Homo sapiens: one gene and its partners. The protein of the gene in region 3 interacts with the protein of the main gene of each other region in a pairwise test. Each region holds a gene or a part of one and is shown on either strand. Other genes may lie near its edges.

The links. The genes of interacting proteins can lie anywhere in the genome.
Region 1: the proteins of DRD2 (region 3) and ARL1 interact in a two-hybrid assay, tested with the Homo sapiens proteins (one large-scale study listed by BioGRID and IntAct).
Region 2: the proteins of DRD2 (region 3) and GDPD2 interact in a two-hybrid assay, tested with the Homo sapiens proteins (one large-scale study listed by BioGRID and IntAct).
Region 4: the proteins of DRD2 (region 3) and ADGRG1 interact in a two-hybrid assay, tested with the Homo sapiens proteins (one large-scale study listed by BioGRID and IntAct).

The regions. Positions count from the first base shown.
Region 1 is NC_000012.12:101,397,773-101,401,272, reverse strand, and holds part of ARL1 (ADP-ribosylation factor-like protein 1), read left to right. Parts: intron 1-99; coding exon 100-211; intron 212-3,500. UniProt on the Homo sapiens protein: GTP-binding protein that recruits several effectors, such as golgins, arfaptins and Arf-GEFs to the trans-Golgi network, and modulates their functions at the Golgi complex.
Region 2 is NC_000023.11:70,422,055-70,426,113, reverse strand, and holds the start of GDPD2 (glycerophosphoinositol inositolphosphodiesterase GDPD2), read right to left. Parts: upstream 2,801-4,059; 5' UTR 2,732-2,800; intron 1,139-2,731; 5' UTR 1,130-1,138; coding exon 1,025-1,129; intron 761-1,024; coding exon 657-760; intron 352-656; coding exon 258-351; intron 63-257; coding exon 3-62; intron 1-2. UniProt on the Homo sapiens protein: Has glycerophosphoinositol inositolphosphodiesterase activity and specifically hydrolyzes glycerophosphoinositol, with no activity for other substrates such as glycerophosphoinositol 4-phosphate, glycerophosphocholine, glycerophosphoethanolamine, and glycerophosphoserine.
Region 3 is NC_000011.10:113,412,899-113,416,398, reverse strand, and holds part of DRD2 (D(2) dopamine receptor), read left to right. Parts: intron 1-787; coding exon 788-978; intron 979-1,937; coding exon 1,938-2,024; intron 2,025-3,500. UniProt on the Homo sapiens protein: Dopamine receptor whose activity is mediated by G proteins which inhibit adenylyl cyclase. Positively regulates postnatal regression of retinal hyaloid vessels via suppression of VEGFR2/KDR activity, downstream of OPN5.
Region 4 is NC_000016.10:57,652,630-57,656,129, forward strand, and holds part of ADGRG1 (adhesion G-protein coupled receptor G1 isoform b precursor), read left to right. Parts: intron 1-573; coding exon 574-706; intron 707-1,356; coding exon 1,357-1,504; intron 1,505-2,769; coding exon 2,770-2,901; intron 2,902-3,246; coding exon 3,247-3,363; intron 3,364-3,500. UniProt on the Homo sapiens protein: Adhesion G-protein coupled receptor (aGPCR) for steroid hormone 17alpha-hydroxypregnenolone (17-OH), which is involved in cell adhesion and cell-cell interactions.

The DNA of each region.
Region 1 (3,500 bases), on a different chromosome or scaffold from region 3:
CATTGATTCTAACATGTGTGGGACAGAATTGGCAATTGATATGTCAGTTTCTTCCTTAAAACAATAACAATATGTTCTCCCCTTTTAAATTTTCTCTAGGCCATACTGGAGATGTTACTATTCAAACACAGATGCAGTCATTTATGTAGTAGACAGTTGTGACCGAGACCGAATTGGCATTTCCAAATCAGAGTTAGTTGCCATGTTGGAGGTAAGAAAACGTAACCACTTTAAAATGTGGGGCAGTCATTTACATATTATTACATTGAAGAATAATTAAAAAGAATGCAGGGGTTGTTCCCTCCATCCTTTTAAAATTATTTTCTTTTATGGAAATGATTTTCTATTCCAAAAATACAGTTGAGGAGGGTTGGAGACAAAACAACAACAAAAATTAACCTCGTAACTTCCTCTTCAAGCCAGATTGCTTGATTTTCCAGGAGGTTCAGAAGAGCTCACTTAAACAAAAGCATCTATTCTAAGTCACTTCTTTGATGTGACTTTTAAAATATGTCTTTTTATTTTTAGCTGTTTTAGAAGGATTCAAGTTCAGAGAAATATGTATTTCTGGGTTACTGGCACAATGCTGGCCTCACGTTTATCGTTTTTTATCCTTCCCAGTGTTTACAGTGCTTTTGACCTTCTTTCTGTTCTTTGGACACGAGCTTGCACACCTGGCTCAGGGCCTTTTGCACTTGCTGATCCGTCTGCTTGGAATACTATTCTCCAGCATCTTTGCATGGCTGCCTTCCTGACGTGTTTCTTCCCACATCTCTTCCCCAGAAAGAAGTCTTATTTATTCTCTAATCCTTTACCCTTCTTTATTCTTTATACCGATATTGTTTCTTTTTTTTCTTTTTCTTTTTCTTTTTTTTTTCTTTTTTTTTGTAGAGACGGGGTCTACCTATGGTGCCCAGGCTGGTCCCAAACTCCTGTCCTCAAGTGATCCTCCTGCCTCGGCCTCCTAGTGTTGGGATTACAGGTGTGAGCCATTGCACCCCACTTACTGTTTTTTTACATTATTTTTAAATGTATTTGTTGGCTGGGCGTGGTGGCTCACGCCTGTAATCCCAGCACTTTGGGAGGCCGAGGCGGGCAGGTCACCAGAGATCATCAGGAGTTTGAGACCAGCCTGTCCAACATGGTGAAACCTCATCTCTACTGAAAATACAAGAAAATTAACCGGGCATGGTGGTGTGTGCCTGTAGTCCCAGCTACTTGGGAGGCTAAGGCAGGAGAGTCACTTGAACCCAGGAGGCAGAGGTTGCAGTGAGCCGAGATCGTGCCCCTGCACTACAGCCTGGGTGACAAGAGTGAGACTCTGTCTCAAAAAATAAAAATTAAAAAAAAATATATTTGTTTACTTATGTATCTCTCCCTCTAAAATGTAAGTTCTTTGAGTTTACCCTGATAGGAGGAACAATGTATAGTACTTAATTAAGAATTCAATACATCTTATTCACTGAAGTTAATAAGATCATATATTGGCTAACTGATCAAATTCAGAGGATGCATTAAATAATCCATTTTTAAAAAATGAAAAAATAATCAAATGTACTATGATAATAATAAAATTGCCCTTGCTCTGGAAAATTAGATGGATAAGTTTCTTTCTCTTGTCAAAAACTGGATTCTGAATTGTTTAATCAAGGGATGTTTAAATATAAGTTCTAGGCCAGTTGATACCTAGGTAAAAGCATCCTCAGACGAGGGGACTATGTACTTTTGAATTCTTTTTTTTTTTTTTTTTTTTTTTTTTTTTTAGACAGAGTCTTGCTCTGTCGCCCAGGCTGGAGTGAGTGGCGTGATCTCCACTCACTACAATTTTCGCCTCCTGGGTTCAAGCGATTCTTCTGTTTCAGCCTTCTGAGTAGCTGGGACTATAGGCTTCTGCCACCACACCCGGCTTATTTTTGTATTTGTAGCAGAGATGGGGTTTCACCATGTTGGCCAGGCTGGTCTCGAACTCCTGACCTCAGCAGTTTGCCCGCCTCCTGATCTGCCAGCCTTGGCCTCCCAAAGTACTGGGATTACAGGCATGAGCCACCGCGCTCAGCCCAGGACTTTTGATTTCTTGAACTACTGACTTAATGGCTTCCAAGTTATAAATTGCAGACTTAATAGTTTTAAACATTTGGTTAATTTTTTTTTTTTTACATCATAGCATTATATTTATTATAAGAGCTTCTTAGACCAAATTTAAATGTAAGGATAAGGTTTAATTGCCTTGGGTATAATAGGTTTTTTAAAGAACAGTTTTATTTAGGTATAATTCACATGATATAGTGTATTTTTATCATATAAAGTATTGCTTAAAAGGAATGGATTATTGACTTCAGTTTACAATTTTTGAGTTGTGCAGGATTGTTGTTACTTGCAGTGTTAGGATTTGACTTATAAAGTCTTACAGAGAAAGAAGTAAAAGTTGGATTCTTTCTTTAGGAAGTCACTTTTAATTCATCAATAAATATCATGTTATGTTAAGTATGGGCCAAGTACGAGTCAGGACTGTTAATGTTAAAACATATAGACACAGGCCAGGTGTGGTGGCTCACGCCTGTAATCCCAGCACTTTGGGAGGCCGAGGCAGGTGGATCACTTCAGGTCAGGAGTTTGAGACCAGCCTGGCCACCCATATCTACTAAAAATACAAAAATGAGCCGGGTGTAGTAGCGCACGCCTGTAATCCCAGCTACACGGGAGGCTGAGGCAGGAGAGTCACTTGAACCCAGGAGGCGGAGGTTGCAGTGAGCTGAGATAGTGCCACTGCACTCCAACCTGAGTGATGGAGTGAGACTCCATCTCAAAACAAACAAACAAAAAATATATAGTATAGACACAAAAGCAGTTTAGGTTTCAACTTTTTTTTTTTTTTTGAGACGGAGTTTCACTATTGTTGCCCAGGCTGGAGTGCAGTGGTGCAATCTCGGCTCACTGCAGCCTCCACCTGCCAGGTTCAAGCAATTCTCCTGCCTCAGCCTCCTGAGTAGCTGGGATTGCAAGCGCACACCACCACACCCGGCTAATTTTTGTAATTTTAGTAGAGACGGGGTTTCACCATGTTGGTCAGGCTGGTCTTGAACTCCTGACCTGGTGATCCACCCACCTCAGCCTCCCAAAGTGCTGGGATTACAGATGTGAGCCACCGTGCCTGGCCTTTCAACTTTCCTATACACAAAAATGAATTCTAAATGGGTAAATAATTAAATGTAAAAAATGAAAATTATAAGAACATATAAGGAATTCAAAAGATGAGATTTAATTATATTAATGTAAACAAAACTCCCCCAAAGCTCAGATATGGCAAATATAAACAAGATTAAGATAAGAAACCAGGCCTAACCAGAAGCCAATGACTAAGGATTAGTGATCTGAATCATAGCAAGATCTTTTGCAAAATGAGCAAAAGGCAATTCGTAGGGGAAAAACATTGCTAATAACATTTGCATTTGTTTTTAAAGAGACAGGGTCAGCAGGGCGCGGTGGCTTATGCCTGTAAT
Region 2 (4,059 bases), on a different chromosome or scaffold from region 3:
ACCTTGTGGAGGCTGTGCAGATGCAGGGGCTGTCTACAAAGCCGCAGGAGCAGGGCCAGGACCTAGAGGAAGAGAGCAGTGGGACTTATGGGGTGCCAAGAGGGGAGCAAGGTTACTGAGGTGGGCTTCCCAGGCTGGTACTTCCCTCCTACCCAAGAATTAGCCCCCTCCCTCAGTGGCCAGGATGAGAATAGGGAGCTAAAACTAAGCAGGAAGGAAGGCTGAGGTGGGGTTAGGCCAGCGGCCTCCGGACCCACCAATAGCAAGGATGCATATGTGACCAGTAGAGAGATGACCAGCAGGAATGCCAGGGACCAGTCCATCCAGTGTCCCCAGCGGCGGAAGAGGAATCTGTGGGAGGGGAGAGGGAGGTGTCCAAGTGGGGGAAGGGGTGTCAATAGTGGCCTGAGGGGAGGTGGGGTGGGTGGATCCAGGAAGACTAGAAGGGAGTGAGGAGAAAGCCCCTCGTGGCCAGGGGCTCCAAGGATTGAGGAGATTTTGTGGAGGGATTTTCTAAGGAGATTGGGTAGCAGCAGAGCTGGGTTTGAGCAGCTGGGCAGGGCTGGGGGATGACTGACAGTGGGCCACCCCCGGGTCCCAGGGTGGGGAGCAGGTTGACAGGTATGCTGGGGAAGCAGGGGGAATCCATGACACACTCATTGAAGTTGTGCAGGTCATTGAGAAGGACGAGCCCGATGTACAGCCAGCTCAGGGAAAGGAGGAAGGTGAGGAAGAGCAGGCCAAACCAGATACAGTCGCACTGCAAAGGGGCAGGAGAGAAACTCACAACCAATACCTACTTCAAACTCAGAGTCCCCAACGGGTGGCAGCTAAAGGGAGCTGCCTGCCCCGTGTTGGGCTGCTCTGCTCGGGGGGCAGCTCTTTCCATATTTGAGGGAGATTTTCTTCCTGGGAGAGAGAGCCCCTTCCCCCAAGCTGTCTATGAGCACAATTGGCCTCCTTATCCCCTCCAGTGAGCCTCTGCCTTCTGACTTCCAGCCTCCCCCCTCCATCCCTACTCCACCTTGCTGGTTTGCATCCTCTCTCTGGGGCATTTCCTCCAGTGGCAGCTATACAGGCAGTGGAGGCAGCGGGCCCAGACGGAGCAGCAGCCGGGGGACTCGGCCATGGTGAAGGCCTGGGGGAAGGGACACTCGACCATCAGGGACCCTGGCAGAGGGCAGATCCCAGTCTCCCTCCTAGTGTATCTGAGGAGCCCGGGGGAGAGGCAGAGGCCTGGGCCGCTGCTCAGCAACGGAGGTCACGGGGCAGGCCCAGAGTGCCAGAGTGGATGAGGCGAGCAGCCCCAGCTGCAAGCCTGGCAATGGGAGACAGTCTCCAGAGCCTTCGTTTCCCTTTAATCTTGTTACCTGGAGAGTCAGTGGGACACCCAAGAGGTCCAGCCTCTTTTCGGGCAGGATTCATATCCACTCTCTCCAGCTCCTCCCCATTTAACAGCACACACCTCTGGGGATGGAGTGCTTGCCCTGGGGGTAAGAACTCAAGAGAAACTGCCCAGGGTGGGACAAACTCAGTTCAGCAAGTTAAAGCAGGTTTGGCCAAGCTGGAGGCAACCCCATGTTGAATTGCTTTCCAGCCCAGGAAGCAGGAGTAACCTGAAGCAAAGGTTACAGTTCTGACCTGGGGCTAAGGAAGGCCCAGCTAGTTGGCCAGTTGCTATGGTTATAGAGATTATTCAGATCACAAATCCCTGAAAGATTCTCTGTGTCCACCTCTCAGGGGACAAAGGGCACTGCCAAAAAGAGAAAGACTTGAGGTGAACATGTTGCCTGGGTCACTCCCAGTCTTCTAAAGGAATCTTTGGATTTTCAAAATACAGAGCCTCCCCTCAAGTCCTGCCCTTTCCTGCCCAGTCATCCCCCAACCCCAACCAGAAGCCCAGACTCGCCTTTAGGAGCCCCACCCTCTAAGTTAGCTTTGGTGAAAGTACAACAAACGCAGGGCAAAGGTGTGTATGCGGGGTGTGGTTGTCTTGGGGCAGGGGACCCCTGTACCTTATGCTTCTGGGTTTGGCTGACTGAGCTGATCCCCAGACTTGGCTGGGTACGTGACTGATTCTACGCGAGACGGTATGTGATTTGTGTCAGCATTTGCACGCGACAGCACAACTGGCTGTCGGTACAATATGATTTTAGGTGACTTTGAGTATGTAAAGGAGCCCCTGGATACACCCAAAGTGTGTGAGCATGTGTGCGTGCGGGCTGAGGGACAGGACCTCTTGTCCTCAGAGCTCTCCCGAGGCTATGGAGTCTTAGAGGGGTGCACAGTGGGTGGGTCCGGTAAGCAGGAAGGTGTGGCTGCTTCTGAACTGCCCTCTTTATGCTGCCTTGGGAAAGGAGGGTTAGGGTAGGGGTGAGGAGCTGGAGCTGGGGGAAGGAAACCCCTCCCCTCTACGAGACCCTTCCCGGTAAAAAGCCAACCCAAAGGGAAGCCCTTGCCTCTGCCCATCTTGGAGCTGGTTTGATAGCCTGCTCTAAGCTCTTGCCTCCCCTGGGGTCCTACCCCTGCACCCCAGACACTGCCTTCCAGAGTCCCCTCCCTTCAGGAGCTGCCTGTAGGATGGGATCAGGGTCTGAGCAGCCTGAAAACCCCAAGTAGGGTTGCTGACAGGGGTGCCATTCAATCCCCCGGCCCAATCCCAGTGGGATGGAGCTGGTCTCTGCTCCACAGCTCCCACCTGTAGCCCCCCAGCCTTCCCGAACCCTCACACCTTTGCTCAGCGGCAGCTCCGCTCCGCTCTCCTCTCTGCACTGCTTCCCAGCTCCTCTCCGAGTGGTCTGCCTCCTCCCTTTTTCAGTCCTCGGTTCAGCCCTATGAGTCAAACAGGTGGCACTGTTGCCACCTACAGGAGGCTGTGTGGGTCCTCTCCCAAGGCCTGCAGCTGCTCTGTGGCCTGGGCACAGCCCGGGTGGGAAGATGGGAGGGAGGAAGCGGGAGGGAGAGCAAATCTGCTTCTTTACTCGCTGGCGGTCAGGGGGCTTGGGGTGAGGAATTCCTTTGTGCAGGCTTTCCCATCCCTCTGTCCCTCCTCCTGTTCCCCTCCCAGTCACTGCCGGGGCTTTGTCCTGGCTCAGGGAGGCGAGGGCTGAGGGCACAGGCTGGCGGGAAGCTGGTGTGTGTGGGGGGGGGAGGTGACCACACAACTTTGCAACTTGGCAGTGAGGAGAAGAGGCCCAGCCAGCCCACTGGAAAGGCGTGTGTGTGTGTGTGTGTGTGCGTGTGTGTAAGCCTAACATCAAGTCTCAAGCTCCCTGGAAATACAGCCTTGATTCATTAGGCTCCCTCCCCTATTGAGCTCCTACTTCTAATTCAGCAAGGTGCATGTATAAGAAGCTGCAGCCTGGCGCGGTGTCTTACACCTGTAACCCCAACACTTTGGGAGGCCGAGGCGGGTGGATCACCTGAGGTCAGGAGTTCAAGACCAGCCTGGCCAACATGGTGAAACCCTGTCTCTACAAAAAATACAAAAATTAGCCAGGCATGATGGTGTGCACCTACCAAAGACTAGGTAGTTGCATGGGACATCTCACAAGGCCAGGTTTAAAGCAAAGACAAGCCTTGGTCATTTGTCCCAGCTACTTGGGAGGCTGATGTGGGAGGATTGCTTGAGCCCAGGACGTCGAGGCTGCAGTGAGTTGAGATTGTGCTACTGTGCTCCAGCCTGGGCAACAGAAGCTGCAAGCTACTTCCTGAACTCTGGATAGCAAGTTGCCGTTTCTGGACCAGAGGTCCCCATGGGCCTTGTGGATCCTGGGTGACACTAGCAGTTCTCCCACCTTCCCTCATCACCCCAGACAGGAGATGCTCATTCAGGACTTGTGTCATTTCTGCTGCCTTGTCCCTAAGGCATATGAGTCTCTTTCCAAGAATCTTTTGAGGAGTGTAGAGTATATTGGGGTCACAGGCTTTTGGAAGATGAACACATAGAAAAGATGCTGTTACTATAGCATCAGCATCAGCAGGGAAGGGCTGGCTAGCACACTATAGTTTGCTTAGTGCTAAAGCACAGGGGTCTGGGTGGGATGGGGGCCAGGGGCT
Region 3 (3,500 bases):
TAGAAGTGAATAGGAGGTAAGCTGACCACATGCCCATTTCTGTGGGAGGCAGAGTCAGGAGTGTCTCAGACAGAGGCAACACAAAGCCCCCGCCAGCGTGGAACTTCCTCTCATCAGGGAGGCAAGAGCGATGGCAGGTGTGCACCTCTGGAGATCGTAACAACAAAAGATACAGTGAAGCCTTGAAAATGTGTGGTTCGGTATCTATTATAAGCATCACAGGAATTCTAAGTGGGAATAACACTAAACATACTTGGATTAATGCACAAGGCCCTGAGATAGAGGACAGGCGTCTGGTAGACCTAGAAGGGCACGCAAACATATGAAACACATAGGAACACAAGTGAGTTCAACAGACAGAGCCAAGTTATCTTGCTGCAAACATTAAAAGGTGGCCAACCTCTCCCAATACACAGGTCAGACTAAAAAGATGGTTTACTCTTTTAAAAGTTTTCTTGTGTCATTCTTTCTGGATACATCGGCTTCACTTGTTATGCCCAGACATGGCAAAACTAATGACCAAGTAATGAGGGAATAGTAATGGAAAGACTTGGGAGCAGTCCATCATCACAGCTTAACTTTTTGCTCACAACCGTGTTTTTAATACTCTGGTATCTGCTGTGCGTTTGTGTATATCTAAGATGACCAGGCAGCCTTAAACATCTAGTTGCGTTCATATTCTCTGTAAAATCGCTCCTTGTTCCTGGAAGGACATGAATGGGCTCTTGTGGAATTATGGCCGGTGGGCCCGCTGACTCCCTGCCTGCCCGGGCTCTCCCTCCCCCAGACCAGAACGAGTGCATCATTGCCAACCCGGCCTTCGTGGTCTACTCCTCCATCGTCTCCTTCTACGTGCCCTTCATTGTCACCCTGCTGGTCTACATCAAGATCTACATTGTCCTCCGCAGACGCCGCAAGCGAGTCAACACCAAACGCAGCAGCCGAGCTTTCAGGGCCCACCTGAGGGCTCCACTAAAGGTCTCAAGACACCCCCCAACCAACTCCAAGGGTCCCCACCTAACCATTACCAAGAGGGCTCATCTTATGCTCAGGTGGGGGCTTGGGAAACCTCAGCAAGGGTTAGGTCTAGGCTAAAGGAATTCCCAGGAGCCGGGCAAGGGCAGATTTTGAAGGCATGGACCTCAGTGGAGCAATCTGAGTCTCCAGGAGAGGGAGGCAGGGTCCATGACACTAAATAACAAGGGGAAGTCTTTGCTTGGAGATCTTTGTGACTGAAGGCGGCAACTCTTGCTTGGTACCCCCGTGGGCTCCTCTCTTCCTCTTTTCTGGTTTCTCTGTCTCACTTTAGCTCCCTCTGACTCCTCCATCCTCTTTCCTTTACCTTCCGTACTCTCTGTCCTCCCCTCCAAACACACATCACTTTTCCTGACTTCCTCTCCACTATGTCTCTCCTGTGCTTCTCTTTCATTTCCCCCCTGATGTCTTGTGAATTCTCCCCTTCACTCAGTCCTTCACAAGGAAGACAGTGTGTGGGCACAGAAGGAACAAGAGCTCTTGGGCTAGACGCATCAGGTTCAGATCCTGTCACTGACACTTTTTTTGCTGAGTGACCTTAGGCAAGTTGCTTACCTTCTATGAGCCTGTTTCCTCATCTGTTAAATGGGAATCAAAATACCAGCCTCACAGGGTGGTCTTGAGGATTCCACGTGAGAAGGGACGTGAGTGTGCCTAGCACAGTGCCAGGCCCTTAGCAGGTGCTCCATAAAAAACCAGGTCCTTGTGTTCCTCGTCATACCCACCACTTTTTGTCTCATTCCAGCCTTCCCCCTTGCCCCAACTGCCTCCTCTGGCCCCCACCCTCCTGATCTCTGAGCCCTTCTGCCCAGTCTGAGTTCCATGGACTGCTGCACTTTGGGTTTCTGTCCCCCCTCCATCCCCACCACTTTGTGTGACCCATGTGCTGGCTCACTCCACAGGGCAACTGTACTCACCCCGAGGACATGAAACTCTGCACCGTTATCATGAAGTCTAATGGGAGTTTCCCAGTGAACAGGCGGAGAGTGGTAAGTGCTCAGGCCAGGGACCCAGAGCCAGGTCTTTCTGCCCCTAGGGAAGCCCACTGGCCATGGTTCTGAGACCTCAGAAGCTGGCCAATGGGAGAAGCACCCCAGAAACCCCCACCTTGCCTCAGCTGAAGGCAGACTCACCGTGCACACCTCCAAGCAGGCATGAAGTGAGACACCTCGGTTCTGCAAGGCATGGATGTGTACGAGAAAATGGTTGGCCATACCAACGTAATAAAAATGATAATAATGGCTATTCACATTTCTCAAACATCTACCATATCCCTATTATCTCATCAAATCCTCACCACGACCCCGGGAGGTAAGTCTCTTTGATCGAACCGATCTTCAGTTGACAGAAGAGGAAACAGGCTCAGAAAGATTAGGCAACTCACCCGTCTCAAGAGTTGGTGACACTAAGCCCAGACCTGTGTGACTCTGAAATCCACACCTGTGTTCTTTCCACTGACATGAGCTGCCTTATGGATGGGCAGGTTCTGGGGTAGGACGCAGCAGAGCAGCTGCGGGGACTGGTGGCGGAGCAGTTTGTGTACATAGAGCCCTCAGGTGCGGAAGCACAGCAGACCCCAGCCTCTGCCAGGTGGTAGCTGTACCAACATGCAAGCAGCAGGCATTCCATCCTCCAGAGGGATGGAGAACAGGGCCAGAGAACCCACAGAGGGCCGCATACAAAATCCAGGTCTGGTGTCCTGCCTTCACCTGCACTGCAAGGGCAGGACTCTAAGAAGCTGTTTATGAGGCAGGTGCCAAAACAGAGCCTCAGAGTCAGGGCCAAGGCAGCAGCCCAGTCATGCCACCTAGGCACATAGTGAGGCTGCACTTTAGAAGTTCAGACTAACACCTCCAAGGCCTCAAACAAGAGAACCTATGGAAGAACCCAGGAGGCCATGAGTGGATCCATGCCAGGGCTCTCTAGGTCACCCCAGCAGGGAAGATGTGGGGCCCCAGGGGTCAGCCTTTTGGCACCTAGATTAGTCTATCCAGGAGAATATGGAGCCCACGTGTGTACGCAGGTGCAGGTACCCATGAAGTGGGAGCACTGGGCCCCTTGTTTGACAGGGAGAACAGGGGTGGGCACCCTCTTTGCAGTCGGAACATGAGTTTCTGGAGGCAGGGCCAAACATCATCAGCTCTTGACCCCAGCAGCCACTGTGGCACCTGGCACTTTGCTAACAGTAAGTGTTGCTCAGGCCATGAGAGACAAGTCCCTGGTATTCAGCCCTGGCAGAACAGAAGTGGGGTATTGAGGCTGCATGAGGATTGCCATGGGAAAAAGGACAGGGGCAATCCTGCAGGGGCTGCCATGGGTCCTGGGTCCCATGCCTCAGTGACATCCTTGCCTCCCTGGCAGGGTGACCCTGTGGTGTTTGCAGGAGTCTTCAGAGGGGGAAAGGGAGGGGCCAGTGAGATGGGTGGCTGATGCCTGGGAACTTGTCCGGCTTTACCCAGAGCCCT
Region 4 (3,500 bases), on a different chromosome or scaffold from region 3:
CCAGGCTTTCTCGGTTATGCATTCAAAAGATGGAGCTACCCAGGGCCTGCCTTCCTCAGTGGCACAGAAAGTATACCCTCCAACCCCCACTGTTTGTCTTCCTCATCTGAGTCCCAGCTAATCCCTGGAGACACCTTAGTCGGCCGCCTTAGTAGGCCGCCCACGCTACCTGGGCAGAGGGGCCCGAGCCTGGAGTCAGGGAGGCTGGTGGGTGTGGAGTCCCAGGAACCACCACCAAGCCCCGCACATCCCTCCTAAGGAGGCCTGGCTGGGCCCTCTCTGCTCCGTGTGTGTAGCCGAAGGTGTCTGCGGAGGGTGCTGAGCAAGGCACATCCCACCCCATCCCGCTGGGGCTGGCATTGCTGGCGGGTTCTGTAAGACACAACCCCCACGGGTTGGCCTCATCTGAGTGGCCTTGGCAGAGTCCACTCTGCTTCTTGAAGCCTCAGTTTCCCCTTTGTAAAGTAAAGATCGAGGCATTCAGAGTCATGTCAGGGTGGTAGGGGGCAGAATGGGAGGGTCCTGGGACCTGAATCGGCAGCCTCGGCGGGGGCCTGTCCACCCCTCCCCCAGGTCCTCCCCACACGGCCGCTCACAATGCCTCGGTGGACATGTGCGAGCTCAAAAGGGACCTCCAGCTGCTCAGCCAGTTCCTGAAGCATCCCCAGAAGGCCTCAAGGAGGCCCTCGGCTGCCCCCGCCAGCCAGTAAGTTTGGCACCTGGGGCTGTGAGGGGAGGCAGGAAGGCATCAGAGATCTGGACCTGGGCAGGGTGGGACCTGGAGTAGGGGCTACTGCGAGGCCTTCCCTGGGACTGGAATGCTTCTTTGATTTCTCTTTCTGCCTTCTGGGAGTCAACACATGCCCCCCAGGCTGAGCCCTCTCCTGTCTGAGTCAGTAACCAACATCACATCCACCATCCCAAGCCCTCCTCCCCCTCATAAAGAAAGGATGGGTGGTCCACAGTACAGCCCAGCAGACCAAGGCTCAGAGACGGCAGAGCCGCTCCAAGGCCACAGAGTAGGTTGGCACAGGCGGAGCTGGGCCCAAACCCATGGTGCTGAGTCCCAGGACAGCCCCCACCACACCATTGCTCTCCTTTCCCTTGGCTCCCAGGTCCTGGCCTCCTCTGTCTGACCCTACCCCAGCTCATTCTTTCTCTCCCACACGCAGATGCCTGCTTTTCTCTTTTGTCTGCTCTCCACTCTCTCTTGCCCACCCCACCCCTCTCTCTGCCTCTGCCTCTGCCTCTGCCTCTTCCCTGTGTCTCTGTCTGAGTCTCTCGTCCTCCTGCCTCAGTCTCCCTGGTGGCCCGGCCCCCTCCCCACCATCACCACCGCTTTCTCCTCCCTGCCAGGCAGTTGCAGAGCCTGGAGTCGAAACTGACCTCTGTGAGATTCATGGGGGACATGGTGTCCTTCGAGGAGGACCGGATCAACGCCACGGTGTGGAAGCTCCAGCCCACAGCCGGCCTCCAGGACCTGCACATCCACTCCCGGCAGGAGGTCAGGGGCAGGCCTGGGCAGGAAGCAGATGCGGGTTGGGCCGGGGCCAGATGGAGGTGGGGGCTGTGAGCACTCCCTGAAGCTCAGTGCCGTCGCAGCCTCTCCCTGGGGCCTCCCGAGAAGGTTCCAGGCCCGAGGATAGCCATCCTAAGTCAGTAGTTCAACCGTGGGATTGAGGACCCTGTGTGGGCACAGTGGCAGGGTCTGCTTCCTATACCAGTCTCCTGGGGCCACCCGTGTGAACAGAAGACCAGCCCCTAAACGCCTGTCCACGCACCCCCCCCCCCCGTTTTTTTTTTTTCGAGACAGGGTCTTGCTTTGTCACCCAGACTGGAGTACAGTGGGGTAATCATGTCTCACTGCAGCCTCAAACTCCTGGTCTCAAGCGATTCTCCCACTTCAGCCTGTGAGCAGCTGGGACTGCAGGCTTGCTACCACACCTGGCTTTAAAAAATTCTTTGCAAGGCTAGGTGCAGTGGCTCACATCTGTAATCCCAGCATTTTGGGAGGCCGAGGCAGGCAGATCACTTGAGGTCAGGAGTTCGAGACCAGCCTGGCCAACATGGTGAAACCCTGTCTCTACTAAAAATATAAAAATTAGCCGGGCATGGTAGTACATGCCTGTAATTCCAGCTACTCGGGAGGTTGAGGCAGGAGAATCGCTTGAACCCGGGAGGCGGAGGTTGCAGTGAGCTGAGATTGTGCCACTACACTCCAGCCTGGGCAACAGAGCGAGACTCTGTCTCAAAAAACATTTTTTTATTTTTGTAAAGACAAGGTCTTGCTACGTTGTCCAGGTTGGTCTTGACCTCCGGGGTTCAAGCAGTCCTCTCGCCCTGGCCTCTCAAAGTGCTGGGATTACAGGCGTGAGCCACTGCACCCAGCCACACACCCCATCTTGAGACTGCCCCCTGAGTGGCTCTGGTTAGCTGGGAACCACCCACACTGCCCACATGGCCACCCCCAAGTTGGCTGCTGTAGGCAGAGCTGGCATCTGAAGCCCCAGACAACAGAACATCATGTGGTTCTCCCAGGGCTATTTGCCCTGGAGTCCTGGATTCTAACCACAAGACTCCCCAGCCAGAGCTGGTAGCAGGGAAGGGAGGGATGAGGAGGGCTGTCATGAGTCAGGCTTGACTTCCTGAAGAAATGGGCTTAGAAGTGGCAGCGTCCAGGAACGGATGGGTGTGTGTGTGTGTGTGCTAGGGTGGGGGGCACGGATCTAGGGGTCCGCATTTGGCTGAGCCCTAAAGGGACCTCTGCAGGAGGAGCAGAGCGAGATCATGGAGTACTCGGTGCTGCTGCCTCGAACACTCTTCCAGAGGACGAAAGGCCGGAGCGGGGAGGCTGAGAAGAGACTCCTCCTGGTGGACTTCAGCAGCCAAGCCCTGTTCCAGGTATGGGGTCCTCACCCTCATGCCTCCCAGGAGAAAGCAGTTTTTTTCTGACAGAGGTGGAAAGAAGGCACGCAGATGAGCTCCTTCCTCTGGGAGTCAAAGCCTTTCCTTGTAAAGTTACAAATTGCACTGCAATGTGCAAATCTCCCTGTGAGAGGGCTAAGCAATGTTCTTCTTACTATAGTGTAAATGACTACATGGGCAAAAGTGGTTCCAGAGGGAGACGCAGCATCTCAAGGCAATGTGCTGGGAGAGGGTTATCTAGAGAGGGTAAGGGGCTTCTGGGCCCTTCTTCTCAGTCCTGAACTCCCTCCCTACTCTCTTCCTCCAACCCCATGTATCTAGGACAAGAATTCCAGCCAAGTCCTGGGTGAGAAGGTCTTGGGGATTGTGGTACAGAACACCAAAGTAGCCAACCTCACGGAGCCCGTGGTGCTCACTTTCCAGCACCAGCTACAGCCGGTGAGTGGGGGCCAGCCATCAAGAGAACAAGCGCCCCTCGGCCATGTCACCCTTTCCTCTCCCTCCCTCCAGACTCATTTGTCTTTATAATGAAACGATTGCCTGATCGAGCAGTCAGGTCCAAATGGGGCGGGTGG